7 separate regions of the Homo sapiens genome follow, and regions 2, 3, 4, 5, 6 and 7 are each linked to region 1. A link means that fine-mapping ties the variant in region 1 to the expression of a gene that starts in the linked region. Tissue or cell type: whole blood. Region 1 holds a variant in brackets; each other region holds the start of a gene. Each region is shown on its reference strand, or each on the opposite one. Region 1 overlaps IKZF1 (IKAROS family zinc finger 1). Region 2 holds the start of STN1 (STN1 subunit of CST complex). Region 3 holds the start of NLRP6 (NLR family pyrin domain containing 6). Region 4 holds the start of ABI1 (abl interactor 1). Region 5 holds the start of BCORL1 (BCL6 corepressor like 1). Region 6 holds the start of KISS1R (KISS1 receptor). Region 7 holds the start of CDC42EP2 (CDC42 effector protein 2).

The links. PIP is the estimated chance that this variant, and not a neighbour inherited with it, causes the effect. A credible set is the group of variants that fine-mapping cannot tell apart.
Region 2: it holds the start of STN1, and the variant in region 1 is the best candidate, but not a certain one, in a credible set for the expression of STN1 in whole blood (TOPMed, PIP 0.76).
Region 3: it holds the start of NLRP6, and the variant in region 1 is the best candidate, but not a certain one, in a credible set for the expression of NLRP6 in whole blood (TOPMed, PIP 0.76).
Region 4: ABI1 starts here. The variant in region 1 is the best candidate, but not a certain one, in a credible set for the expression of ABI1 in whole blood (TOPMed, PIP 0.52).
Region 5: BCORL1 starts here. The variant in region 1 is the best candidate, but not a certain one, in a credible set for the expression of BCORL1 in whole blood (TOPMed, PIP 0.51).
Region 6: it holds the start of KISS1R, and the variant in region 1 is the best candidate, but not a certain one, in a credible set for the expression of KISS1R in whole blood (TOPMed, PIP 0.58).
Region 7: it holds the start of CDC42EP2, and the variant in region 1 is fine-mapped to the expression of CDC42EP2 in whole blood (TOPMed, PIP 0.94).

Annotation. Positions count from the first base shown.
Region 1 is chr7:50,328,384-50,332,383 of GRCh38, forward strand. All of the region lies in intron 3 of IKZF1 (IKAROS family zinc finger 1), which reads left to right. Among named protein-coding and RNA genes, the nearest start is that of IKZF1, 26 kb to the left of the region's middle. The variant C/T (reference allele first, on the strand shown) is at 2,275.
Region 2 is chr10:103,915,958-103,920,031 of GRCh38, forward strand. It overlaps STN1 (STN1 subunit of CST complex), which reads right to left and starts at 2,227. Exons shown (of 10, transcript NM_024928.5): 1 at 2,143-2,227; 2 at 1,505-1,699. The coding sequence starts at 1,637. RefSeq lists enhancers at 1,689-2,018, 1,878-2,523, 2,154-2,448 and a silencer at 2,189-2,538.
Region 3 is chr11:276,264-280,337 of GRCh38, forward strand. NLRP6 (NLR family pyrin domain containing 6) reads left to right here and starts at 2,144. Exons shown (of 8, transcript NM_001276700.2): 1 at 2,144-2,335; 2 at 3,064-3,344; 3 at 3,571-3,609; 4 at 3,821-4,074. The coding sequence starts at 2,307. RefSeq lists an enhancer at 3,444-3,994.
Region 4 is chr10:26,859,316-26,863,389 of GRCh38, forward strand. ABI1 (abl interactor 1) reads right to left here and starts at 1,643. Exons shown (of 11, transcript NM_001012750.3): 1 at 1,432-1,643. The coding sequence starts at 1,548. RefSeq lists silencers at 1,016-1,165, 1,276-1,365 and an enhancer at 1,686-1,885.
Region 5 is chrX:129,980,434-129,984,507 of GRCh38, forward strand. It overlaps BCORL1 (BCL6 corepressor like 1), which reads left to right and starts at 2,202. Exons shown (of 14, transcript NM_001379451.1): 1 at 2,202-2,329. RefSeq lists a silencer at 3,031-3,267.
Region 6 is chr19:915,404-919,477 of GRCh38, forward strand. It overlaps KISS1R (KISS1 receptor), which reads left to right and starts at 1,930. Exons shown (of 5, transcript NM_032551.5): 1 at 1,930-2,343; 2 at 3,141-3,265. The coding sequence starts at 2,100. RefSeq lists silencers at 1,671-1,810, 1,821-1,910, 2,311-2,510 and an enhancer at 3,504-4,074.
Region 7 is chr11:65,312,861-65,316,934 of GRCh38, forward strand. CDC42EP2 (CDC42 effector protein 2) reads left to right here and starts at 2,006. Exons shown (of 2, transcript NM_006779.4): 1 at 2,006-2,094. It overlaps LOC105369344 (a long non-coding RNA gene), which reads right to left and starts at 1,829. Exons shown (of 3, transcript XR_007062727.1): 1 at 911-1,829. RefSeq lists silencers at 1,664-2,043, 2,504-2,633, 2,804-2,963.

The DNA.
Region 1 (4,000 bases):
CCAAAGACGGAGAGAAGTTCAGTGAATTAACCAAGGTGAAATGACAGAGTCAGAATTGAACTGAATTTCTGACTGAAAAACTAGTTCTCGCTCCATTATACCATGTTCTAATGAGCTAATGAGTCAACAGTTCCCTGGAATACCTGTTTTCTTCTTTAAAAAGAGAAAGAGCTGTGATACTGAGAGCTACCTATTGGCATAAAAGAATATGAAGGACATACAGGTAAAATGAGGTAGACTGGATCAATGTGGGTCAGCTACATAAGCCCCCATAGCCAAGGAGGGAACATGTATGTAAAATTCTCAGGCTTATGAGAATCACAACTGTATGTCTATAGGACATCCTAATGCAATAATGGGAAAATGTGATAACTGAATTTTATCTACATGTATAGAAAACATATTTTGGGCCGGGCATGGTGGCTCAAGCTTGTAATCCCAGCACTTTGGGAGGCCGAGGCTGGCGGATCACAAGGTCAGGAAATCGAGACCATCCTGGCTAACACGGTGAAACCCTGTCTCTACTAAAAATACAAAAAATTAGCCGGGCGTAGTGGTGGGCGCCTGTAGTCCCAGCTACTCGGGAGGCTGAGGCAGGAGAATGGCGTGAACCCGGCAGGCGGAGCTTGCAGTGAGCCGAGATTGCGCCACTGCACTCCAGCCTGGATGACAGAGCCAGACTCCATCTCAAAAAAAAAAAAAAAAAAGAAAAAGTAAAGAAAACATATTTTGTATGTTTTTTATGTGTCTTAGAAACCAAGTGGACTAGGTATAATGGTTCTTTTTTTTTTTAACTCAGCAGCACAGTTAATGGCACAAACAGATAAAGATGGTGGCTAAAGCCATTTGGTGTAGATGAATCCAGAAAACAAGTACATTTATGAATTATTTTACCCTATTGGAAAATGGCTACTATATGTGGAAAGTAGAGGGGAAGAGAAATGAACTTGTGAATTATCTACTCTATTCTACCAAAGAAAGATACATATATCATTTCAGGGTTTTCCAAAGTTGGGATGCAAAGGATCATGTTTCATTTTAATTTATGTATTTATTTTTGAGATTGTCTTCTATGTATTGCAAGTGATACTGGTTTTACCATGCACTGTACCACTACGAGGGTTCCTTTCAAAACACATTCATATAAATTAAAAAATCAGTTTAAATAAAAACATCAAGTCAATAGTAGTACATAGATATGATAAAAGTTTGCAAAAGTGGCACAGGAATAGTCATTGGGTGGTGATGTTCCCTGATTTTTTTAGTCCCTGAAGCACCCAGCGCCAAGGGTACTGTTCTTCCTGCTTAACACAGGAGCAAACAGATGCTCACACCCTGCCCAAGAACACAGAGGCTCAGGGACTGAACCAGAAGAAATGATCCATTAACCATGTAAATGAACAGAGAGCCTGGATGTCAGAGTGAGGAGGCCAGCTCGGGTCGCTGTGGAGAAAGAGATGGGCTCTCCCTGGAATCCCTGCAGCTGCCCTTAGAGGCTGTGAGCCATCGTGGCTAGGGCATCTTTAGAGAACTGAAAGTCAGGCCGATTCCTGGAGAGTGAAGAATAGCACACGTGCCTTCAAAACAGTGTCAGTATCCTGTCCCTTACGGACGTCATATTGTTGGTGGGTTTTCCTGGGTGGGAGATCACCCAGTATCTGGTTGGCATTACTGATGGGTTCCCAGAGCTGTCTTTTGGTTCAAAGTCCTGCCCTCGGTCCCAGCTGCCCCCAGCACAGGTGTCACCTTGGAGTCAGGGGCGGGTTTGTCATAGCCCATGGGTCCTGGCCCTGCCCTTTATCATGTTTGACATGATTTTCAGTCTACTTTTCCTTCAGGATGTAATTTAGAAAATATGATTTCAGAATTGTGAAATTTAAAAACCCTAGAAAACCTCTTTGCTTTGCTTGTAAATAGCAGTTGATGCAGCCCTGTGGACAGGCGGGAACAGCCATGTGACGTGGGCACTGAGATGATTTGGGAGATTGAATGCTCCTCAGTGGGGCTAGAGGCCACAGGAGTGATAGGTTACTGTAAAGAAAGCAAAAAAGATGCAAAAGCCTACATGACAAACCAGGCACGACACAAAGGAGAGGCTTGAGAAGAGGAAGTGAAGGAGGGAGAGGATTCCACAAGACCGAAGTGCCCAAGGAGACATGGAGGGAAGAGAGGGCTCTTCACAGAGCTGAGTTTAGAGACCACCCTCCATGGTTCTGGAAGGAAACCAGCCAGCTTTCATATGTGGTGACAGGCTGTTCATTAATTTGTAGTGTA[C/T]AGCATTAAATAAATGAAGTATGTAGAGAACATTAGGAAACAATATAAAAAGGTAGGGGAATTCGTGGATAAAGGGAATAACCTGGGTACCATATTTCATCACATTATTCCATGGGAATAAGTCATCAGTGCAAAGGACTGTAAGGAGTGCACAGCAGGAAATGAAAAGACAGAAGCAGTGGGGCCGAGAGGAGGAAATGGAGTTGCTGAAATGCAGGGTGAGCAGCAGGGGCGGAGAGTGCCCTGTGGGTAAGGCACACCTCAGAAGGGACAGGTCCAGGCCCTCTCCTCCCTGGCCTGGAGCTTCTGGCAAGGCTTTTCTTCTCTGAGCCTCACTTTCCTCTTTTGAAGGTGGCAATAGTAACTGAACCTGCATCACAGAATGGCCTTGAGGGTTAGATGGAACATATATAGACATAATTTGTTGAAGACAGAGTAGCAAAGACACAAAGTAAAAAGGACAGAAAAAAGAAATGCAACTTGTGCAAAATAGAACTTTCAAAGATTTACAAGAAGGGTAAATGAAGCTATCGTAGCTTCACTTGGGAAAAGGGAGAGAACAGATGACCAGCACCAAGGATAGAAGAGGGATTTCTTACTTTAAAAAAAATGGTCCAAAGAATAAACAAACTGAAAACAGCCAAAAGAGAAAGGAAGAATTTGTTAGAATAGGGCAAGACTAAAGGACAGAGTAAGGGTGCTGGCCGCCACCTGACTCAAGTTCAAGTCGAGCTGCCACTGTTGAAATTTCAAGGAGAAATGGTGAGAAGCTAAAAGATGCAAAAAAAAAAAAAAAGTGGGAAATTATTTGCTAATAATAGATTGCAAGAGTGTCTGCTTTAGAAAGTGACAAGGAACACTTTTGGAAAGCTGTGAGCTGTTATGACCACTGGCATCCTTCAGTTTTAGACAAATCTAATCTCAACAAGGATAACAGACCATATTAATAAACAAATTGATGGGAATGGTGGAAATCAGTTCCCTATGAGGAGGGTGCAAAGTTATACTGATTGGTGAGTCACTCCCAGAATAAACAAATAATGGTTTCACACCTCATTGCTTCATTCAGTGTGGAAGGAACATTCTAGGTTTGTGTGTAAGTTTGGGGAGAAGGAGACAGAGCCAGAGGGCAGAGCAGCCCTGCAGCCCTCAGTTGGCCTCCATTTTCTTCCCGGTCTGAAGAAAATGAAACAAAGGATTTAAAGTGTTGCTTGAAGAATTTAAGTTAGACTTAAAGGAGAGATGTGGTCTTTACTCTCCTTTTGGCAAGGAGAGTTTAGTCATCAGAATGGTCTATTTAGTGAGACTGTAGCTTGTTCTTCTGAAGTGGTCTTTTTAAAAACTAGAGAACTCTCACCTCTCTGAAGTGGTTGTGTATGAAACTGTTTAAAGCCGAGGATGCACTCAGTGACCTCTTCAGGCAACCCCAGATTTACTCAGTCAGCCATGGCACACATGCTAGAGAAGTAAAAAAATGAATTGAGACTTGTTCTGAAAACTCTTGAGCAGGGGCTCTTAAAAGTTTTTTGTTTAGGAATTATGTCAGGGTTGGGGTCTGGAGAGCAGATAAGTGTTTTGTGTGAGAAAAGTAAAAACTTAGTTATTTTCTTCCCGTATTCAGTAATCCTTGCATTTTTTTCCTCCTCCTTTATACATACATTTTTGCCAGTTACTGACTTCTCTCTTGTACACATTTCCGTGTCCTAAATTAACCAAGAGTCCTCAG
Region 2 (4,074 bases), not on the chromosome of region 1:
ATGTGACAGGATGTGGGGCTCAGGCAGTAATGCTCACTGGCCAACCACTCACTTCCTGCTGTGTGGCCCAGTTCCTAATGGCCATGTACCAGTAGTGGTCTGTGGTCCCAGGGGTTGGGGGCCCCAGGTCTAAAAGTATCCAATCTGTCAGCTGATGTCTGCTTTAACCGTGAGGTTTCATTTTTAAAACACCTTGGAAACATTCTCACCAGTGATAAATCAAAGATCACTGGTCCTGTTTTTGTTGGTTTGTTTTTAACACATCATAAAGTCTTTTGCCTACAGGTAGAGTTAAGCCCCTGTCATGTCCTTGGTACCTGTTTTCTCACCTGCAGAAGATCATTAAGCAAGGCTAGAATTTGGTGTGAATTAATTTCTTCCTGAAGAGATGAGCTATGAAGAAAACCAGACTGGAAAATGGAAAACTGTGGAGGAGGTTGGCTGCCTTCCAAGGGAAAACACAGACCATTTCCAACAATAATTAGGAAATAAAGGTGTGGCGAAAAATCTGTACAAAAGGCATTAGCATAAGGTCATCCAAATATATTTGTACATTTAACTGGAAACAAACAAAACCTTATCTCATTAAAACTGTGGATGCTTGAGATTCTTGACTACTTCTAACTCATAGTTTGTTATTCAGAAGGACCTTGACTGGAAAGCTTCACTCAAAATAGCAAAGAAAGTTTAACCAAACTTCTCAAATAGCACAGTAAACATGTGGCTATTTGTGAATTATTACACAGCTACGTGAATTATTTAAATCCACCCCAAACTATACTTGTTATATTTTTAGGTAAGATAAGCCTATCTCTAGTAGCCACTATTCTAATACAAAAAAAAAAAAAGAAAATTTAAACTTTACATGTATAATGCCTTGTTGCTTCAACTGCTATTTCTATTTGAGGGCCCACTATATGCCAGGCACTGTTCTAAGCCCTGGGATTACAAAGGTGAACAAGACAGATGATGTTCTTCCTCTCAGGGAGTTTATAATATTTTGATTCTGCTTAATTCAAAAGAAAACAAACCCCCTTTACATATCAGGAATCAAAAGATTCCATTACACAGGGTTAAGCTCCATTTTTACAAAGAAACCCAGACTTTGCAGAAGGTGAGTCACATGCCCGGACCAGGTAAGTGGCACATTTAGGAAAGGAGCCAGGCCTAGGAATATCTGGCCCAGCGATCTCTCCAACAGGAGCAGGGCCAAAGAAAAACAAATGAGCATTTTTAAGCATGAAAGACCCTAAATGGAGGTAAAAACCCCAGTACAAAAGTTACTCCCCCAAACACCTACTAAAAAAAAAAAAAAAAAAAAAAAGATTTAGACTGTTTTTTTTACCTTGCAAATAAATGAACTCATGCGAAGGTCCAGGCTAGGTCCCTTTCAAAGCCTGCAGCAGGGAAGGCTCTCCTAAAAGCCTCTAATCCCAGCTTTCTGAGACTTTGGGAAAGGGTGGCAGATGCAGCCCAGGGCATCCCAGGGTGGCTAGCCACATACCTGGCACCTGGCGGGACTCCTTCATGTCCAGGATATCCCTGATGTAGAGTTTTGCAAAGGCTAGAAACACAGGATCCAAACCCCACAAGAGGGAAGGGGTCTCCTCTTCACACCGGCTGGATCCAGGCTGCATCAAGAGGCAGGGCTGTGGCTTCCAGCTAACTCTGAAAGGTTCTGCATCACTGAGTCAAGCATCTAGATGGGACACAGAAATGAGGATGCAATGCGTTTAACGTGGGTCAAAGTGGCACGGCCCTGACGCTGCTCCCAGGTGGGCGTCCAGGACTCCAGGAGGGGTGAACGCAGGGATCCAGGGCCCTGTCAAACTCCATGCCACGGGGCGTGTTAAGAGGCGTTCCTCACGTCAGGACGCCTGCGTTCCTTACGGCTCTCCCGCTGTTCTCCTTCCCACAAAGCACCAACTTCGGAACGGCTAAACATCAACTTTCACTCTGGGAAGATACGTCTGTACAGGCGTAGCAGAAACCGCTTGGGGTCCCGGGAGGAACGGGCGCCCTCGCAGCCCTGCACGTGTTGGGGCATAGTGGATGGGTCTGACTGTCGCTCTGCCCTAAACTTTCCGCTTTTGGGGATGAGCCAAGAAAAGGAGGAAAAAAGATACTAAAAAATGGACCCACTTGTAGCCCCTCCCGCCGCCTGCAGCTCCAGGAGCCCTGAGACCTGGCCCTTCCGGCGCTCGGAGCCGCTGGCGGCGACGACCCCGCCCGGCGCAGGAGCAGTTGGCTGAGGTCGTCTCTGGAGTTCCGGCCTGAGCCCGCCCCCTGCCCCGCCAGGGACCAACCCCGGTCTCCCCGCCAGCGCATTTCCTTTCTGCTGCAGCGCCTCGCCACGGCTCCGCCCCATCTCTCCCGAAGTCCCGCCTCATCCCACCCAGACCCCACCCATCCCGCCGCGGCCACGCCCCATCCTGCCCGAAGCCCCGCCCCATCCCGCCCGAAGCCCCGCCCCATCCCGCCGCGGCCCAACCATCCGCTAGGCCCCATCCAGCCGAAGTCCAGCCCGTTCCGTGCCCCGCCTCAGCGCAGCGTACTTTTGGTTCAGGCAGCGCTGCAGCCCCGCCTTCGTGCTAGCCTCCACCGCTGAGGCCTAGGAGGCGACCTTGAAATTCCTGCAGTTCTAACGCCGCTCTTCTAGTCACCTTTCACCCCTCCTCCTGCTGGTGGCGGGACCCTGAACCTGGGCCTCCTAGAGGTTGGGTCAGGATCAGACTATTTTTCTTTTTGATTCCTGATATGTAAAACAGATAAAAAGTAAGCAGTGCCACGAGTGCATTGTGGCATATTTTAAATGTTCATTTACAGTTGGTAAGTGACCTGACTCACACACTTAGGACTCTAGTTTCACTTGGAGATGTCAATATCTAAATTTGAGCCCTCGAGTGAATGTGAGGTCTTGACTCTGCCAGAGACTAGCCGTGCAAAATCATGACAATACATTTTGTCTCCTTTACCCTTGTTCGGTCTACAGTCTGGAAGGTTGTACACTTAAGAACTTTGAAAAGCTGGCATTTTGGTAAATCATGGCCACCTTGATGGTGCTTAGTCTCCAGAATTTCTATTTTAAAGTGAGGAAAGATAGCCACGTTCCACTCCCATAAAGAGCTACGTTACCCGAGACGTCAGGAATTCTTCCTAATTTACAGAGACTCTGGAAAATGGCAGGGGAGTACAGATCACCCTGGCAGACCATTCCCGGGGGAGGCAGGTGGTGGCCAAAGAGATAATTGCTAAACTATTTATCAGAGAAGGAACTTGGAGCCGCTGGAATGGAAAGTGTGTGTGTCATTAGACCCATGGCATTTAATTACCTCCCCGGCCATTTAAGAAGCTCAAAAACAAGAGTCCTTGGTAAAATACATTGCCCAGATTCTACTGCAATGAACACTAGGAAATGTAGGGTTTAAGATTTAATTAAGAGAAGACACTGGCTGGGCGCGGTGGCTCACACCTGTAATCCCAACATTTTGTGAGGCCGAGGCGGGCAGATCACGAGGTCAGGAGTTCAAGACCAGGCAGGCCAATATACGGAAACCAACCCCCTCTCTACTAAAAATACAAAAATAGCCAAATGTGGTGGCGTGCGCCTGTAATCCCAGCTACTCGGGAGGCTGAGGCAGGAGAATCGCATGAACCTGGGAGACAGCGGTTGCAGTGAGCTGAGATCGGGCCATTGCACTCCAGCCTGGGTGACAGTGTGAGACTCTGCCTCAATTAAAAAAAAAAAAAAAAAAAGAGAGAGAGAGAAGATACCTTCTCTTATAGGAGGAAGGCCCTTGCAAAGAAAACACACCCAGTAGGACAGGTGCTTCCTGCTGACCTGTCAGATGGGGAGAGACAGGTTGAGTGACATTTTCCTGACTGTACACATCTGCTCCAGGGTGAAACCCAAAGGAGGAAATCACTACTAAGTGTCAGAGCCTGAGATGATTTCAGGAATAATGCTCATGGCGCTCAAGGGTAGAGTGTTGGATAAAAGAGCCCTCCTGGACTCCATGCTTACTGCCAGCCTTGGGAAGGACCACACCCAGGTGGTATAAGCAGAGCAGAATG
Region 3 (4,074 bases), not on the chromosome of region 1:
AGTTTGCTTAGTGTTTTTAACCATGAAGAGGTGTTGGAAAATGTAGACTATTCTTTCTGTCTCTATTGAGATGATCAAGCAGTTTTTGTCCTCTTAAGTATTACTATGATATGTTACATTAATTGATTTTTGGATGTTAAACCAACCTTGCACTCCTTAGAGAAAACACACTTAGTCATGGTTTGTAATTGTTTTTATATGCTAATAGATTCTGTTTCTGAAGTAGTTTGTTAAGGATTTTTCATGCCTGTATTCATGAAGGATATTGGTTTACAGTTTTCTTCTGATGAGTTTGCCTGGTTTTGGTATCAGTGTCACAGGCCTCAGAGAATGAGTTGGGAAGCATTCCCTTGAGAGCTTTTCTTTGTGGGAAAGTTTTTTTTCCCTGTAATTAGTAATTCAATCTCTTTACTTGTTATAATTTGTCTTAGTCTATTCTCACATTGCTGTAAAGACATACCTGAGACAGGGTAATTTATAAAGAAAAGAGGTTTAACTAGCTCCTGGTTCTGTGGGCTGTACAGACTTTTGCTTCTGGGGAGGCCTCAGGAAACTTACAATCATGGCAGAAAGCAAAGGGGAAGCAGGCAAATATTCATGTGGCCAAAAGGACAGAGAGAGCAAAGTGGGACATGCTACACACTTTCAAACAACCAGATCTCATGAGAACTTACTCACTATTACAAGAACAGCAAGGACGAAATCCACCTTCATGATCCAATCACCTGCCACCAGGTCTCTCCCCCAACATTGGGAATTACAATTCAACATGAGATTTGGGTGGGGACACACAGCCAAACTGTTATCAGAAAGAGGTCTTGATCCAGACATCATGGTTCTTGGATCTCATGCAAGAAAGAATTTGAGTCAAATCCATAAAGAGTAAAGTGCCAGGCATGGTCGCTCACACCAGTAATCCCAGCACTTTGGGAGGTCCAAGGCAGGCAGATCACAAGGTCAAGAGTTCAAGGCCAGCCTGACCAACATGGTGAAACCCCGTCTCTACTAAAAATACAAAAATTAGCCAGGCATGGTGGTGCATGCCTGTAATTCCAGCTACTCAGGAGGCTGAGGCAGGAGAATTGCTTGAACCCAGGAGGCGGAGTTTGAAGTGAGCCGAGATCGTGCCACTGCACTCCGCCTGGCGACAGAACGAGACTCCATGAAAAAAAAAAAAAAAAAAAAAAGAGTAAAGTGAGAGCAAGTTTATTGAGAAAGTAAAGGAATAAAAGAATGGCTATTCTATAGGCAGAGCAGCCCCAAAGGCTGCTGGTTGCCCATTTTTATGGTTATTTCTTGATTATATGCTAAACGAGGAGTGGATTATTCATGAGTTTTCCAGGAAAGTGGTGGGCAATTCTCAGAACTGAGGGTTCCTCCCCTTTTAGACCATATAGGGTAACTTCCTGACTTTGCCATGGCATTTATAAACTGTCATCGTGTTGGTGGGAGTGTCTTTTAGTGTGCTAATGTACTGTAACTAGAGTAATGAGCTGTGAGGATGACCAGAGGTCACTCTCATTGCCATCTTGGTTCTGGTGGTTTTGGGCCAGCTTCTTTACACCATTATCAGCAAGGCCTTTATGACCTGTATCTTGTGTCAACCTCCTGTCTCATCCTGTGACTTAGAATGTCTACCCTCCTGGGAATGCAGCCCAGTAGGTCTCAGCCTTATTTTACCCAGCACCTCTCATTTCCACATATTAACCCCCCCGTTCCACACACTCTCACATTTGGTCCCAGGGGTCTCGAACACCCCTGACGTCCAGCCTCTGCCCGCCAGCTGTTCAGGTCGGGTGGGGAGGCTGCAGTGCAGACCCCTGCCCGGCGTCTCCCTGGAGACTGCCTTCCCTCCCATATATGGTGCGTGCTGCTGGCTGTCCCCCCTGTTCCCTCTACCTGGAAGTCTTTCCTCACCCCTGCCTTCAGAGTCTAACCTCTCCCCAGGCCTCAGCTGAAGGCCTGGCTCTGAGCCAGCCACCTCCTTCACACAACCCACCTTGCTCTGAAGCTGCCTGCTCACAGCCATGCCCCGATGCCACACCCAGGGGTTCTTGGGGAACATTAATGGGATAAAGGAGTAAGAAAATCAAAGGTCACCAAACGGAGCCCTTAAAGGGCAATGCTCTGCGTGTGCCACGGTGCCCAACAGCATCTCGTGCCAGCTGAGCTGCGGTGTGTGGACCCGGGGAATGGACCGGGCTGGACAACCTCTAAGACTTGGCTCCAGCTCAGCCTGTGAAGGAATCACCTCTCTGATCCCCACCTCTGCCCCGGAGTGCTAGACCCAGGGAGGAAGAGACCCCATGGACCAGCCAGAGGCCCCCTGCTCCAGGTGAGTGCTGGCCCCAGGGTGGTCACTGGGAACCGGCTGGTCTCAGCCCTCTGGGGCCTCCACCTCACCCGCTGACTTCCTCAGGCTCTCCACCCTTGTCCACATCCTTCCCCCACCCTCACTCCCAGGCTCAGGAGCCAAGCACTGCCTCCCCACAGAGGGCATTTGTGGAGTCTGTTCCCCACCAGGGGCTCAGATTCAGGCCCTGGTGCAAGGCCCCAAGCTGGGCCCCACCAAAGTGTGGCAGGGGTGGGGGCCCAGGAATACAGCCTGGGCCTGGCAGTGTCTGCTGCCAAAGAGGCCAGTTCTGCTCCGGGATCGGGAAGAGAGGGAAAAGAAGGAAAGCGAGGAAAGAGAGCTCAGGGTTCCTTGGAAATACCTCCCTCGGGGCATGTGACCTGTCCTGGGGTGTGGAAGGACAGAAGCAGAAAGGGAGGTGCAGGGGAGGAAGGTGCCCCCCAGAGCTCAGATCAGCGGCGGCCAGTGCCCACTTCACCCTCAGAGGGCGAAGAACACCAAGACGCCCCGACCCGGGTCCGGGGACGGGGGAGGGAAAAGTCTGGGGTCACTCCCCGTTGCCCCCTCCCGCCACCCCATGGATCCAGACGATGCTTGGCCCGGGACTCCCTGAGGCCCTGCCCGCGGTGGGTTCTCCGGCGCCAGAGTCGGGGGCGGGCGGGGGTCACCCGAGGGCCGCTCCCCGATGACCCGCGCCCGCCCGCCTCCAGCACGGGGCCGCGCCTCGCGGTGGCCCGCGAGCTGCTCCTGGCTGCGCTGGAGGAACTGAGCCAAGAGCAGCTGAAGCGCTTCCGCCACAAGCTGCGCGACGTGGGCCCGGACGGACGCAGCATCCCGTGGGGGCGGCTGGAGCGCGCGGACGCCGTGGACCTCGCGGAGCAGCTGGCCCAGTTCTACGGCCCGGAGCCTGCCCTGGAGGTGGCCCGCAAGACCCTCAAGAGGGCGGACGCGCGCGACGTGGCGGCGCAGCTCCAGGAGCGGCGGCTGCAGCGTGAGTTCTGCGCGGGAGGTCCCTCCTGTCTGGGCAGAGGCTGGGCTGCCCTCCTTCCCGCTTCCCGGAGAAGCCCCGGCGCGGTCCCCGGCCCCCGCGCGTTTTATCCACAAATTCGCGGGCCCCAGGGGTAGGACCCTGCGTGCTCCTCAGGGTGACTCGGACCCCCGTGGCGCCTTCCCCTGTTCCCGCCCTCGGCGGAACCTCACCCCAGTTTCCCTTCCAGGGCTCGGGCTCGGCTCCGGGACGCTGCTCTCCGTGTCCGGTGGGTCTCTCGCTGGGGGGGCACGAGTGTCCCCAACCCCACTTGGAGGGTCCCGGGGAGGACCGGGGTGGGAGGGCCGCCAGGGGCGTGGGCTGTGGTCCCGTAGAGGAAACTGAGGCCTGAGCAGGGCCGGGGAGGGCGTGGGCTCCCGGAGGGCGCAGCCTGCCCCACCTCCGACCCTTGTCCCCGCGCTGTCTCCCGCTGCGCCCAGAGTACAAGAAGAAGTACCGGGAGCACGTGCTGCAGCTGCACGCTCGGGTGAAGGAGAGGAACGCCCGCTCCGTGAAGATCACCAAGCGCTTCACCAAGCTGCTCATCGCGCCCGAGAGCGCCGCCCCGGAGGAGGCGATGGGGCCCGCGGAAGAGCCTGAGCCGGGGCGCGCGCGGCGCTCGGACACGCACACTTTCAACCGCCTCTTCCGCCGCGACGAGGAGGGCCGGCGGCCGCTGACCGTGGTGCTGCAG
Region 4 (4,074 bases), not on the chromosome of region 1:
AAATATTCAAAACATTCTGAAAACAGCATCTCCCTCTAAAAATAAAGAGGGGAAGCATTTGCCAACACAGAAACATCGGTTCTTAAAAATTATAATCACATGGGAGACATTTCTATAAACAATTTAGTTCTGAATTGCAATAACCCTAACCTTTCAAAGCACGTTTTGGCCTTGCCTTACCAAAAGCAAGAGCATTCCTGGTGCCTTTATATTTATACAAAGGACTGTGCTACTTTGTTTCTAGCGCAAACTGTTGGTTTACACAGTTAAAGATCTTCAAAACAAACTACCACACACAATTCACTTCCAATCATCCAAAGAGAAACGAACAAACAAGCATCTGTCACAAAGTCCCAAGAGTTTTCTAATTTACAATAACAGATATTTTTACGTTGTAGTTCAGAGGCTACCTCTGTTCGTTTCTGTATTTGGATTCACATACTATACATTTACTTAGCTTGTTAAGAGAGAAACCTCAGAAAATAAGCAACCGGCGATGACACCAGTCTATTTTAAGTTACTTATGAAGCCTACAGCTCAAGAACTTTTGGGAGAAGGGAGGGTAAGCCGTTTTTCCAAGGAGTTAAGAACAATTCGTGTTTGATAATTAATGATAGCAGCCCTAACAACCTCTTAGAATACATTATGGTGGGGCGGAAGTGAAAACGATGAGAGGGGGAAAAAAATAAAAAAAACCCGACTTGAAAATGGACAAGCAGACAGATTTACAAACCTTCAATTAAAGGAATTTTAAGATGAACTTCTCTCAAACGCCCTCCCTCACTCCCCACACCCGCTTCCTCCTCTCCTCCGGGAGGTCGGTGTAATGTGACTCATGACAAATTTTTTTTAAATAAATAAATAAATAAAAGACACACCCTCTGGGGGCTGAAACTGACATAATCGCCCCCACCCCACCCTCCGCCGACACACAACACACACCCCGCTGGTCCTCTCCCTTCTGCGGCTTCAGCCTCGTCCCTGCCCTCTCCTCTCCCCTCTCCCGTCCTGGACCTCCTCTCCCGGCGCAGAGAGGCGGCGCGGCGGCAGCTCGGGGGTATTCCGGGACTCCAGCCCTGCGGACTGGAGGCTACCTGGGGGGCGCGCGACCCCGGTGGCCGGGCCCTGGGGGAAGCGGACGCGAGGGGGGCGCCGGGCTGCGGCAGCGGCGGGCTCCCGGCTCCCTCGCCCATTTTCTCTCTCCCCTTCTATCGGTTTCCACCACCACAGCCACTTCCTGTATCGCAGCCCGACTCCCTCAGCCCGGCCACTCGCTCTGTCCCCGGTTGGGGCTGGGGTTGGGGCTGCGGTAGGGGCTCGGGTTGGTGGCAGCCGCTGAGGTCAGGGCAGTTCCCCACCCCGCCCAGTGGGCTGGTCACTCCGGCGGGTCCTCGACCCGGCCAGCGCCCGCCGGCCGCCAGAGCGCCTCACCTGTATGTAGTTGTTTTCACAGTAGTCTGCCACCCGAGTCAGGTTCTGGTAACTCTCGATCAGCGCCCTCTTGCCAGACGGGATCTCCTCCTCTAGTAACATCTGCAGCTCTGCCATTTTCCACCCCTCTGCATCGCTTCCTCTCGCGTTAAAGAGACAGAGGCAGCAAGGTCCGCCGAGGCTCCGAGCACCTCACAGCCCGGATACAAACCGCCTACCCGCCCTCCCGCCTGGTATTGTGGGACGGCACCTCCTCCCCTTCCTCCTCACTCTCTCCAGCCCCCCTCCACCCCCTTCGTGCAGCCGCCTGAACCTCGTTCTCTCGCGAGCGTTTATTTCTCCCACCCCCACGGACCGCGGGATTTTTTTTTTCTTTCGCACTGTCTTCTGGGAATTGTAGTCTCTCCTAGGCTAGGCGGCCCGTCCAAAGCGCATGCGCCCAGACACCTCCGAAAACCAACGCGGCAGAGCGCAGAAAGCGGAGACCGAGGGTGGAGGGAGGGGGCGGTGTTGGGGGGAAGTCCGGAGTTTCCTCACAGCTCCGGAAGGTGGCGCCACAGGGTGATACTGGGGGAATGAAATCGGTTCCCCAAGTTTCATGTGAAACTTGGCAGAACTTGGTTAATTAGGAAATGTCAGTGAATCAAGGACACCCATTCAGAGAAGGATTAAAAAGGGGACAGAGTACGGAAAACTAGATTTTTACTTCCTCTGCCTTCTTAGAAATAAAGCGAGTCAGGCTTTACTTTCTGAAGTTCCGCCCCCATCAATTCATTTAAAATTTAGCAAACATTTCTTGATTGCCAGCTGTTTACCAAGCAGCGTACTAGACACTGGGGGTACAAGTTGAGTACGAATACTCCGTACCCTTAAAGACTCAATTATAAAATAAACATACATAGCTTGTAGTGCTTTCCTGTCCTAATTTCTCTTTTCTCTGACTCTCCTTATCATGTAATCTTCCTACACTTTTAAGGTCATGTGCACGTTTTTTTAGGGGTGGGAGTTGTTTGCTTGTTTGAGACAGGATCTCACTGTTACCCAGCCTGGAGTACAGGGGCACAATCATGGGTCTCTGCAGCCTAGACCTCCTAAAGTCAAGCGATCCTCCTGCCTCAGCCTCCAGAGTAACTGGGACTACAAGCGTCGGTCACTACACCTGGCTGAGCTTTTTAATTTTTTATAGCGACAGGGATCAAATTATGTTGCCCTCGCTCGTCTCGAACCCCTGGCCTCAAGCAATCCTTCTGCCTCAACCTCCCAAACTGCTAGGATTACAATCATGAGCCACCCACCCTGATCCTTCGTTTTTTGCTCCTGGATTTTTGTTTTGTTTTGTTTTTATCACCTGCTTTGGAATAGTCTCAAAAGGCCCTATATTTCAAGCTCTTCACTTCAACAGGAACATTAAATGCTTCGGATATAATCAGCTATGAAAAGTGTTGTCCAAAGACTTTGGACATATGTTCATGTATCTCCATAAAGTCATTTAGAATCAAAATAACTAGGAGTAAAAACATCACTCAACCAAATTAAAAATTGCCAGCACCAGGTATTTATTGAATATTGCCTTTACTGGGGCCTTATTCAGGGCCCCAGGGAACCAGTTTCCCTCTTCGACCTCTGAAAGGAAAAACTCAGTTTCCTACTAAAAACGTTAACTTCCCCTTGCCACCAGATTCTCCATCAAGGAATCTATCAAAAGATAACTATTATACCTATTCCAGATATTATGGAAAGTAATACATTTATTATCTGGAATAGGTGTAATAGTTATCTTTTGATATTTATCGTTAACCCAAACACGACTTAATCCAAGTTATTAAAATTTAATGTATTATTGATCTTGGTCTCTACTTGAGGTTTAACTGTAGAAATCACTCAGTTTGTATATATTCAAATATTGACACATTTCAACAACATTGGGGAAGTGATTAGGGAGGTGATACTAATTTACTATTTTCAACGTACTGTCCATGCAGTTGAGCAATGAATGAATAATAATGATGATGATGATAAATACAAATAAAAAGTACTGTCAGATTTCTTCTCACAACTCTGAGAGACAGATAATATAAATATTATTTTCCTTCCTTATCAAATAAGGAAATTTAAGCTTAGATAGGTTAAGGAGTTTAGCTAAGGGCACTGAAAATGCCGTCAAGTTTCCTAGGTTACTGATTGATATGGTTTGGATCTGCATCCCTGCCAAATCTCATGTTGAATTGTAATCCCTAATGTTGGAGTTGGGACCTGGGGGAAGCGGGAGTGGATCATGGAGCAGATTTCTCACGAATGGTTATGCAGCATCCTGTTGGAACTCTCCTTATGATCTCGAGTGAGTTCTCCTGAGATCTGGTCATTTAAAAGTGTATGACAGCCCAGTGCAGTGGCTTGTGCCTGTAATCCCAGCACTTTGGGAGACCAAGGTGGGAGAATCCACTTGACTCCCAAAATGGGAGACCAACATGACGAACTACTCCCGCTTGAGTTCCAGACCACCCCGAGCAACATGGCAAAAACCCGTCTCTACAAAAAACACGAAAAATTAGCCAGGTGTGGTAGTGAGCACCTGTAGACTCAGCTACTTGGGAGGCTGAAGTAGGAGGATTGCTTGAGCCTGGAAGGCACAGATTGCAGTGA
Region 5 (4,074 bases), not on the chromosome of region 1:
CCCTGCGGCGGGGGCGGGGGGAGGATAAAGAAACTTGCTTCCCGCGGCCCCCACCCCGCGTGGGTTCCGATCTTGCGTGGAACGAGCCCGCGTGGCGAGTCGCGGCAACACTGCCGGGACCGAGGCCGGCACCTGGACCCGGACCCGGACCGCGCGCTTGGGCCGGCTCGGCGGGCGCAGGCAGCGGGCCAGGCCAGCACCCAGGCAAGGGCGGGGTGGGTGGCCGTACACCGGACCGAATCGGGGACTCCGGTGGCGTGGGCGCGGGCCGAACCCCGACCGGGCCGAGTTGGGTGGCGAAGTAGGACGTGGATTCGGGGGCGGGGCGCGGCGGGAGGGGGAAACCAGGCCTGGCCAGACTGGCCTGGGCGTGGGGGCGGGGGGCGAGTTCGGGGCACTTGCTGGGCTCTGGACCGAGCGGTAGGGCGGGGCGGCGCTAGGGGCTGGGCCGGACCCGCAGGGAGAGGGCGAGGGGAGGGAGAGCCGGGGGTGGAGTAGGGGCGTGGAGTTGTGAGCGGGGTCTGGCCTCGGCCGGGGGCGAAGGTAGATCGGCGGGGCCGCGAGCGGAGGGAGGGAGGCCCGCGGCGGCGCGGCGGCAGCGAAGGCCAGCTTCCGCGGAGTTTGTGCCCGGGCTTCCCGGGCTCTGGCCGCCTCACGCGCACAAATGGGGCTAGGGGACTGAGTGGTAAGCAACTCCGAGTGTTAGACGGTGATCGGGCGGCGATTCCGGGAAAAGCGAGGAAAGACACAGTCTGCGATTGTGCCGCACCCCCCACCCACCTCTTAGCATCTGGATTCTGCTCTCGTAGTGGGGGCCGCGGACCCTCCCCGCCACAGTCCTTTTACTCTCCAGCACTCCCACCGCCTTCCCCCTTCTTCAGCCATCTGACTCTCCTAGGGGTATGTGTTTTTGGGGGTGGACGGCGACGGGGGTGGGGGATACTTTCCTTCCCGTGGCGGCAACCTAGTTCGTATCTTATTCCTACAAGGTAGCGTCGCTTCGAGTCGCATGGACATTGGGGTTTAGATAATTTACCCCCCACCCAAGCGATTTAATGGCTTTTAAGCAAAAGGCGAATACCTGGATTTCCATGGGAGGGATGAGGTTTGAAGATTGGGATTCACCCCTAGCTCACTTCCACTACCAACCCCTCTTTCTTGTGAGCCACTTCCACGGGTATTCAAATCTGGGGGGGAGGGGGGACGGGAGTATTAATATGCTTCTCTATTTCTACACAGGGTCGGCGTGGCGAAGGACGGCTAGCCTTGGAGGGAAAGTAGCCACCAGTCCAACTCGGGTCGCCCCCACCATTATTTCGGTGAGGGGGCAACGCTAAGAAGGGGATACTGGTGGGTAGGGGCCCAGTATAAGGGAGGGGGCTGGGTAGTCGTCCCCAGAAGGACTCCGTGTCTTGGCGGGGAGAGAGAGAGGCGAGCCCCGGCTTCAGGGGAGGGGTTCCGGGGAGGGAGATGGGGGGGTGGCGACGACGGTGGGGGGGGGAGCGGGAAGAAGGGGGAGTCACGCCCTGCCTGCAAGGGGAGCCTCCCTCAGGCCCCTGGGAGAAGGGGACTGAATGCGTCTGTTCTCCGCTGCCCGGCAGAGGAGATCTGGGGTCTCGAGATTTGCACACTGGATCGGCACCAGTGGCCTGAGAAAGTCAGGTCGGGGCATAAGGTGGAGAACGTTGGAAGAAAGAGAGAGAACCCTTTGGCCGCGGCTCACTGACCCTCTCCCTTCCTCAACCTCCCCCTTCGAGGGGCGTCGAGGTGGGGGGGGACGTGGGGCTCCTGCAGCCCCGCAGATTGAGCGCCTCCGCCTCTCCCAGGAGTCTAGCTTTTTGCCCGGCTTGCTGCAGCCACTGCTGCCTCCCTCTCCGGAATCCGCTCGGTCCTCTCAGCGATCCCCTCCTCCTCTCCTCCCCTCCCAGTGTCACCGGGGCTGCTTGGCTCTGCCCCCTTCGCCGCCGCTTGCTCCCTGCTTTCGTCCCTCCCTCTCTTGCTCGCTCCCTCCCTTCGCCTCCTCCTCCCCATTCCCCCCCACCCGCGTAGGCCGCATTCTGGGAGTTGTAGTCCGGTGGAGCGGGGGTTGGCGCCGCCCGCGGACCCAGCCGGACTCCACTTCCCGTCGAGCCCTGCGACCGGCACCCACTCCACCAGGCTTCGCTCGCACACAGACACACACACACACCGCTCTCCCCCTCACTCTTTCGCTCGCCGCGGCTGCTGCCAGTGTGTGGCTCTGTCTCTCCTCCGCTTTGCTGAGCCCTCCCTTCTTCCTCTCAGTTCCTAGAGTCCGACCGCCGCCGCCGCCGAGAGAGAGGAGAAGGAGGTCGGTGGCGATAAGGGGCGGAGGGGGGCATCAGATCGGGGCAGTATTAGGCGGGTGGCGGTTAAGAGGGAGTAAGAGGGAGCCCGGGTGGCGGCCTGAGCCTCCCCGCGGAGCCGACCCGGGAACAGGTGCGTCTTTTTTCTCTCTCCCCCAATCCCTCCACCCCTTTTGACTCCCCGGCTTTTTCGTATCCCCCCACCCGCTTCTTTCTATCTTAAGCCTTTCTCCAACCCTGTTCCTTCTTTTCCCTGCGGCCGCTCGGCTTGCCCCCCGGGGGCGCCGTCCTCTTCGTGTCCCCGGACGTAGCGCTCCCTGGAGCTGGGTATGTCTTCGCCCCTCCCTTCGGGACAGCTCCCTTCCACTTCCCACCTTCGTACCCCATCCCCTGACTTGCCCTACCCCCTTCTCGACCCCCTTCTCTCTTAGCCAGGTGAGACTCGTTCGCCACGATCCAAGAGAGTCTTCTTCCCGGCTGGGCGGGGGTCTCCATGGAAACGGGGGTCGGTTGATCCTGGGGGGGAAACCATAGGAATTACCCCACTCCTCGGAAAGGGAGGTGGAGGCTATGGTCTTGTTAACTACCTGACTCCAACCCCCGATCCAAGGATCCGACGATCCGAAGGGAGGCTGGCTAGCAGGGCAGGGCGAGAAAAGGCTTTTTTTTGGGGGGGGGGGGTGTCCGTGATGAAGTGTTGAAGAGACCGGGAGAAAATGCCCTCCAACCTCAGAGGGGAGGTGCGACGGGTGCTCTTCAGGGCTGCTTTCTTCCCGGCGCTGGGGTGCGGGAATCGTAGGGTAAGGGGTACCCCTAGGTGGCGGCGGGGCCTGGGTTCGGGAGTGGGAGTGCTGTGATGGGGGCAGGGGCAATTATCCGAGTCCCTGGAAAAAAGGCGGGGGATGACTTCGGAGCGCCCTGGCTCCGCTGCCCTCGCTCTAGGGGCGGGGGCCGCCGGGCCGGGCGCGGCGGGGAGGGGGCTTAAATTGAAGGAAGATGAGATCGGGGGCAATTCATACTAGCACCGGCAAGCCAGAGGGGAGATCCGGCGTGCAAGCCCTCCACCCGCTTCGCGCCAGGCCTGGAGGCAAGGGGTCGGCGAGCGAAGCCGAGGGCTGGAAGGAGGGAGGCTCCGGTTACGGGGCCGGGTTTCGGGATCAGGGGCAATCCCCCGGCCCTTGGAGAAGGAGGGAGAGGGATGGCCGCGAACCCCAGGGCTCCCCCACCCCGGGTCCTAAGGGGCGTGAGGGACGGACAGCAGGCCCAGCGGAGCTGGATTCGAGCGGATCGCGGCCGGGGAGTGGGAGGGCTTAGTGGTGGGCTTCGGGGGGAGCAGTCCGGCGGCGGGGCGGGCGGGCGGGGCGTGGGGCTCCGGCGGGCGGCGGGGCGGGGCCGGGGGCGGCGCTGCTGCCGCCGCCGCTGCCGCCGCCGCCGCTGCTGCTCCTGCTGGGGCCGCCGCAGCCGTTGCCGCCGCCGCCGCCGCCGCTTCTGGGCGGGGAACGGAGGCCAAAGAGAGTCCCGTGCCGGGGCAGAGGGCGCAGGCGGCGCGCGGTGGGGAGGGGGCCGTCCTGGGGGCGGGGGCAGGCGGGGGGGTGGAGCCCCCGACGGGGGGCGGTACGAGCCGGGACGACGACGACGAGGAGCCCCGGGGGCCGGGTGCATGGAGGACGAGGTGCTGGGAGAAGGAAGGGGGGTGTGGGTCCCGCGACTGGCCTCGTGGGCTTGGCTCCTCGAGGTTCGGTTTCGGGAC
Region 6 (4,074 bases), not on the chromosome of region 1:
ACCCTCCACCAAGCCCGGGTAATTTCTGTATTTTTAGTAGAGACCAGGTTTCACCACGTTGGCCAGGCTGGTCTGGAACTCCTGACCTCAAGTGATCCACCTGCCTCGGCCTCCCAATGTGCTGGGATTACAGGCATGAGCCACTGTGCCCGGCCTATTCATTTTTTTTCCTCCCTTTTTTGTCTTTTTTTATGCAAATGGAAGCACCTTTTTCTTCGCTGTGTATTACTCCATGATGACCAAATGTCTTGGACTCTGTTGCAGGATGGACTTTGGGGGAACCTCCTGGATGTCATCCTGGGGTACACTTCCAGCTGTGGGATTATGGAGTCAAGGTTGTGCTGACCAGGCTGGGTGGCTCATGCTTGTCATCCCAGCACTTTGGGAGGCTGAGGCAGGAGGACTGCTTGAGCTCAGGAGTTCAAGACAAGCCTGGGCAACCTAGTGAGATCTTGTCTCTACAAAAAAATTTAAGGGGGGAGGGGGGAGGGATAGCCTTAGGAGATATACCTAATGCTAAATGACGAGTTAATGGGTGCAGCACACCAGCATGGCACATGTATACATATGTAACTAACCTGCACATTGTGCACATGTACCCTAAAACTTAAAGTATAATAATAATAAAATAAAATAATAAATAAAATTAAAAAAAAAACTTTATTTGCAAAAAAATAAAAAATAAAAAATTTAAAAATAAATTAGCTGGACCGGGAGCAGTGGCTCACGCCTGTAATCCCAGCACGTTGGGAGGCCGAGGAGGGTGGATCACCTGAGGTCAGGAGTTCGAGACCAGCCTGGCCAACGTGGTGAAACCTGGTCTCTACTAAAAATACAAAAATTACCCGGGCATGGTGGCAGGCACCTGTAATCCCAGCTACTCGGGAGGCTGAGGCAGGAGAATTGCTTGAACCCGGGAGGCGGAGGTTGCTTTGAGCCGAGATCATGCCACTGCACTCCAGCCTAGGCAACAGAGCGACACCCTGTCTCAATAATGATAATAAAAGGCCGGGCGCGGTGGCTGACGCCTCTAATCCACCACTTTGGGAGGCCGAGGAGGGTGGATCACGAGGTCAGGAGATCAAGACCATCCTGGCTAACACGGTGAAACCCTGACTCTACTAAAAGTACAAAAAATTAGCCGGGCGAGGTGGCGGGCGCCTGTAGTCCCAGCTACTAGGGAGGCTGAGGCAGGAGAATGGCGTGAACCAGGGAGGCGGAGCTTGCAGTGAGCCGAGATGGAGCCACTGCACTCCAGCCTGGGCGACCTGAGCGAAACTCTGTCTCAAAAAAATAAATAAATACATAAATCAGTAATAATAATAATAATAATGAGGCTGTGGCGTTTGCAAGGTGCCCTCCACCTGGTTCCCGCTGCTAGTGTCCCTGCGGGTATCAGACACCCCTTGTCAGTCATGTGGGACACATTCAGTCCCAAACCACCAGATCGGGGACGTCCCTCACCTGCCCTGAACTTTCCATGGCTCTCCAGGGTCCTGGGGACAAACCCAAGCTATCCTCACTCAGGGTCTCCGCTGAGGGCTGGCCTCCCCGCCAGGCTGGGCCCACCCCCTGGAGCCCCAGCCCCTACGAGGGTCAAAGCCCTTCCCATATTCACAGGCCTTAGAGTTCGCGCCTTGGCTGGGCTCCTAGTCCGGGCTGAGCGTCTACTCGCTGGTTAAGGTCGGTCCTTCCAGGTCCACAGCGGCCTCCACGCGGCCCACCCCCTGCCTGCTCCGCCCCCTCCAGCCCCCTCCCGCGCTCTCACTCCGACCTTGCACCGGGAGGAGGGAATAGGGGGGTTGCCGCTGGGTGAATAGAGGGCGCGTGGGCAGGGGAGGGAGTGGCGAGCGGCTGCCGGAGAGGCGGGAAGGCAAGGCCAGGGGAGGGGGGCACGGGCTATAAACGCTCGGCCGCAGCGGCGCCGGCAGAGGAGCCGCCGAGCCCAGCACAGCTGCCCTCTGGACCCTGCGGACCCCAGCCGAGCCCCTTCCTGAGTTCCACAGGCGCAGCCCCCGGGCGGTCGGGCGGAGGGGTCCCCGGGGCGGTGCCAGGGCGCAATCCTGGAGGGCGGCCGGGAGGAGGAGGTGCGCGCGGCCATGCACACCGTGGCTACGTCCGGACCCAACGCGTCCTGGGGGGCACCGGCCAACGCCTCCGGCTGCCCGGGCTGTGGCGCCAACGCCTCGGACGGCCCAGTCCCTTCGCCGCGGGCCGTGGACGCCTGGCTCGTGCCGCTCTTCTTCGCGGCGCTGATGCTGCTGGGCCTGGTGGGGAACTCGCTGGTCATCTACGTCATCTGCCGCCACAAGCCGATGCGGACCGTGACCAACTTCTACATCGGTGAGTGCGGGCGCTGCGCCGCACCTGCTGCCGTCCCGGGGGCTCCGAGGGCCGAGCGGCCTGGGGCGCCCTCTCGCGACGCATCGGGGCCCTCTCGGACCCGGCTCTGTCCCCTGCAGGGGTCCCCCCCAACCTCGAATCTTTTCCCTGTGGTCCCTGCACCTGAGGCTAGAGGTCGCAAACTCCAGCGCGGGCGGGCCCGGGCGGGCCGGAGGGTGGGGAGTGTGGCACATGGAAACCTCGACCTGGCCACTCGCGGGGCTCGCCCCGGTGCAGCGCGGGCCAACGGCTCGGTGTCAGCTGAACAAAGGGCTGGGGGAGGGGCTGGCTTGGCCCGCGGGCCTTAGTTTGCGACCCCTGCCCCGGTGGCTCTCTGAGCCTGTTTATGCATTTGTGTCCTGGGGTCCCCTATCACACACAGCTGTGAGCCCAGTCGGTGGCTGCTGGGCCGGCACCATTGTCTCCAGTTTGCAGTTGTGGAAACTGAGGCTCAGAGGGTCAGGGGCCTGCTTAGGCTCCCCCAGCCCGGACAGGGCCCAGCAGAACCGATTTCTGCCGGAATGGCCAGGAAATCCGAGCCGGAGGCGTAATGTTTGAGATGTAAGGGGGAATTACTAGAAGGCGCCCCAACTTCTCCGCCCGAGGAGGCCAGGGGCGCTGGGGGAGGGGGGGGCCTCCCTGAGCCATCCTGCTGGTCACTCGGACCAAGGTGGGGGCCAGGGGTCAGGGCCAGGAGCGCTGGGCGGTTCCCGCGGCCAGTGGCGCCCACGCCCAGCGCCCGCGCATCCCCACCGCAGCCAACCTGGCGGCCACGGACGTGACCTTCCTCCTGTGCTGCGTCCCCTTCACGGCCCTGCTGTACCCGCTGCCCGGCTGGGTGCTGGGCGACTTCATGTGCAAGTTCGTCAACTACATCCAGCAGGTGCGCTCCGGAGCAGGAGGGGAGAGGGCGCACTTGGGGACGGGCGGGGGTGCGCTCCGCAGTGGGAGGGGAGGGGACGCACTTGGGGACAGGCGGGAGTGCGCTCCGCAGTGGGAGGGGAGGGGATCGTACGTGGGGACGGGGAGGGGGGGTGCGCTGCGGAGCAGGAGGGGAGGGAGCGCACGTGGGGACGGAGGGAGATGCACTCAGAAGCTGGAGGGGAGGGGGCGCATGGTGGGGCGGGGCAGGGGTGCACTCTGGAGCAGGAGGGGAGGAGGCGCACGTGGGGACGAGGAGAGGGGATGAGCTCCGGAGCGGGGGGCGGGCGCATGTGGGGAGGGGGAGCCCACGTGGGAAGGGAGGACGGACCTTGGGCGGGGCGCGAGGCAACGCATAGGAGAACCAGGGGCTGGGGTGCCCAGCTTGCGGGAAGGGGCTGGGCGGTGGTGCAGCCTAGAACTGGAGTGGGGGGCGGGAATGGGGGAGGGATGCAGACGGGGACCCGGGTCACTGGTGAGGAAGGGCTACTGAGGCCCTGAGGCTTCTTGCCCCGCCTGTCCCTCCATCCCACGCAGCCCCCCTGTCTCAGACTCGGGGTATCAGCCGCCCCCCAAGGGCTCCCTCACTTCCCCAATCCTCCTGCCCTCCTCTCCCAGTCTCCCCACCTTCTGTCCCCTCAACCCGCACTGGACACTCCTCCCAGGACACTTCCCGTGTATGTGCCTGAGTGTTCGCACACGTAGGGGGATCAGCAGGGCGGGCGGACAGGGCAGGCTCCCAACCGCGCAGGTGGCCACACGCCCGGCTGG
Region 7 (4,074 bases), not on the chromosome of region 1:
GTTCATGCCATTCTCCTGCCTCAGCCTCCTGAGTAGCTGGGACTACAGGCGCCCGAGTAGCTGGGACTGCAGGTGCCTGCCACCATGCTCGGCTAATTTTTTTTTTTTTTTGTATTTTTAGTAGAGACGGGATTTCACCATATTAGCCAGGATGGTCTCGATCTCCTGACCTCGTGATCCACCTGCCTTGACCTCCCAAAGTGCTGGGATTACAGGCATGAGCCACGGCGCCCAGCCCTCATTGGCAATTTTCATTTCCATTTCTCATGTAACAAAACATATTCATAGATTACACAGGTTCGGATGTGGGCTTTTTTTCTTTTCTTTTTTTTTTTTTACATGGGTTTTTGCTCTATTGCCCAGGCTGGAGTGCAGTGGCGTGATCACAGCTCACTGCAGCCTTAACCTCCCAGGTTCAAGCAATTCTCCTACCTAAGCCTCCAGAGTACCTGGGACTACAGGCTTGAGCCACCATGTCCGGCTAATTTATTTGTTGTAGAAACAGGGTCTCACTATGTTGCTCAGGCTGGTGTCAGTGTCAAACTCCTGGACCCAAGCAATCCTCCCACCTTGGCCTCCCAAAGTGCTGGGATTATAGGCATGAGCCACAGCACCTGGCTAGATGTGAACATATTTAGGGGGGCTGTTATTTTACCTACCATGATCCCCTTCTTCCCATCCGGACCTCCCAGCTTGTCTGGCATCTTCCCCCACCCCCAGCATCCTGCCTCCCCCACTGAGGTCTTCCCGGCTCTGCCTCCCTAAAAGCCCTTCCCACACTGACAGCATTGAAGCCAACCATCCTGGTCACACTGAGCTGGCATAGCTGTCATCCTCTAGAAAGTGAGGTCTGTCCACCCCGTCACTACCCACCACTTCCTCTGCCCCACTCTTCTTAGCACTTACCCACCTGGAAGGGTATCATGATGTACCTGGGAACTTGGATTTCCCCCATTTCCCTTCTCTGGGCTGCAGGTCCCAATCCAGAGGCTGAATCCCCAGGGACAAGAACAGCGCTAGGCACTTGGTAGATACTCAACAAATCTCTCTTGAGTCACTGAGAGGTGCAGTTTCCTTCAGTCTGTCTCCAGCACCCTGTGCGGTGCCTGCCCTTCAAAACATGTTTCTGGGCCGGGCGCGGTGGCTCACGCCTGTAATTGCAGCACTTCGGGAGGCCGAGGCGGGCAGATCACTTGAGGTCGGGAATTCGAGACCAGCCTGGCCAACATGGAGAAACTCCGTCTCTACTAAGAATACAAAAATTAGCCAGGTGTGCTGGCACATGCCTGTAATCCCAGCTACTCGGGAGGCTGAGGCAGGAGAATCTCTTGAACCCAGGAGACGGAGGTTGCGGTGAGCAGTCTGGGCAACAAGAGCGAAACTCTGTCTCAAAAAAAAAAAAAGTTTCTGGCCCTGTAGGAATGACTGACTGACTGACTGAAAGAATGAATGGACCAGGAACTAGTCTGAATATGAGCCCCACCTTCACTCTGGAAGCCTGACAGCAAAGACGGGGGTCCAGGCCACGCGGCCTCTGCCTTCCCATACTGTCTTTTCTAGTGGGAGGTAAACTGATCAACTAGCTTGTAAGTTTGTAGTATTCTAACGTAGGCGCTTCCAAGGAAGTCGCTGAATATACTTGTGCCGGCGCTTCCCCGACGCAGCCCTGCAGGGAAGGATCCGGTCCAAGGTCTCTCTGCGATTTCTGAAGAATTCGGTCTTCCCGGAGCCTCTCCCCCGGCTCTTCTAGAACCGAAGGTTTTAGTTCCCATGGGCACAGCCGGAGGCCGCCTGCGCCACCCGGCCCTCAGCCGCCAGAACCAGGACAGGACTCCAGGGCGCGCGCGACCGCTGGACCCGGGAGCGGCACCTCCCACGCCGGGAGCCCCGGGCGGTGCCCGGAGTGGGGCGGGGCCTGGGCGGGGATGGGGAGGGGCTTGGCTGGCGCGGCCCCGGCATTGGCTCCGCGGGCCGGGGCGGGGCTGCGGGGTCCGCGGTGCACTCTGTAAGTTCACCGCCGGTCGGGTCCGGCCGCCGCGCTGTCCAGCTCCTGAGACCTTGCTGTCCGCCGGTCTGCCGTCTGCGCGCCTCACGGTGAGTTCGGGCTGGGATTTTCGCAGCTTCGCGGGGGTCCCCCGAGAGGCCCATCTCTGTGGCGCCCCGCCCCAGCTCGCGCCCTGGCTCTGCCTCTCACCTCACTCAGTTCCTTTCGAGGGCTCCTAGGGCTCCATGGGGCTTCCCACCCGCATCTGGGTTCCCGCAGCCTCGCCCGTGCCCGCCACGGTCCGTGGGGGCGCAACGCATCCCGACCCCGAATTCCCCGTTCTGCCCTCCATTTTGTGTCCGGGCCCCCGCCCCCCTCCCGAGACCCAGGGGTGCCCCGCCGCCCAGCATCCCCACCGGGGCTGGGGGCCGTATTTTTAGCCGATAGTGAGTTGTTCTCCTATCTTTAGCTGCGGCCGCGAATGTCCTGAAACGGATCCGGGCTGGGCTGGGCTCCGCCCGGGTAGGAGTGGGGAGGGGTCGGCGCAGGAACCCGAGCCGGAGCTAAGGAGCCGGACCCGTGGGAGGGGCGGGGGCCCGCACGCCCGAGCTCTGGCCCTGTGCCGAGCGGACACTAGGACATCGCCCAGGCCGGAAAGCACAGGGGGGAGGCTCCTCCCAGAGCTTGGAGACTAGGGCAGGGTCCCCAATCGCCCCCTTTTTCCCCGATTGTGGGACCAGAAACCCCGAAGCAAAAAGATCTCGCAGGTAATCCCCATCTGGTACTTGAACGCGCAGCTCCTTGGGGACCGCCTGCCTGGAGCCCGGGGGAGGGGCGCTGGAGACCCCGGTGCGCTCTCGGAGTCCTCCGGGACACGAGGCGATCAAGGGAGCACGCGCGCCACCTGGCGGCCGCGGAGCCGGGCACCTCTCCGGAGGCACCGGGACCCCGGGAGACCCAGCGGCCGCTAGAGGGTCTCTGCATCCTCGAGGTCTAGGAGGGCGGGAGGAGGTGGACGCCTGGGGTCAGGAGCCCTTCGTTTTTGCTATTGTTCAAAGCACTGGCCCCGGAGAATCGAAGTGCTTGAGGAAGGAAGGCCTTGTAGATATTTGCTGAATGAATGATAAAACCTACAGTGACCCGCTGAACCCCGCTATTGTACATTGGCGCTCTCACCTGCAATATTGCAGTGGGATCTCCAGTGGCCCTTTAGTGGTGGCTTCGTTGTCAGCCCATTTTATAGATGGGAAAGGTGAGACCCAGAGAGGAGAGGCGTCTTGCTGAAGGTTACTGAGGAAGTCCCAGGTGGAGCTGGATTTAAGGACAGTCTCCTGATTTAGGAGAAGAGGGGGTGTGAGGTGGCCTAATATTCTTCATGATAGGAGGATCCCTGCCTGCCGGAAGTCATTTTCTCATTGGGAGGTCCAGGGCTCCTGTCCAGGGCAATCACAGAGAGCTAGGATGCTCCTATCTGCTCCCCGACTGCTGCAGGGAGCTCCCCTCCCAGCTCCCCACAGCCCTGTCCTGATGGAGACCTCATTCTCATATCTCTGGACACATGAAAGTTGGGCAGACGGGGGCAGCCAAAGGTCAGGATGTAGATGGAGGAGATCTGGGGACCCACTGTTCCCAGCCTAGCTGTGAGCCCCTTTCTCTCCCGCTCCCCAAACATATTATGGAAGTAGGCGTGGCCCACTGCATGGGAACCACGTGGACCAGGCTGGGTACCCACTCTTCCACTTCCTAACTGGATGACGTCGCCAATGTTACTTAACATCTCTGAGGTTCAGCTTCGACTTCTGTAAAGGGCCGTAATGACCCCACCATGCCGTGACTGGGAGCTTTAAGATGAGAAACTGTGCGTGGCAAGCTGGATCCTAGGGTCTTGCAGTTGCCAAATCTAAATTCCTGGGGCGTGAGGGTTGTAATTCCCAGCTCTCCCCTGGGCCGCTGATGCTGGCCTCACCCTCGATTCTCCCCACATCTGGAATTGGGTGTGTACATCTGGCTGTGAGTGAGACAGCTGTCAGGGACGCCCAATTTGTTGTGGAAACACTCAGGCTGTCTTGGCGCTGCCGTGTGATGGGGTT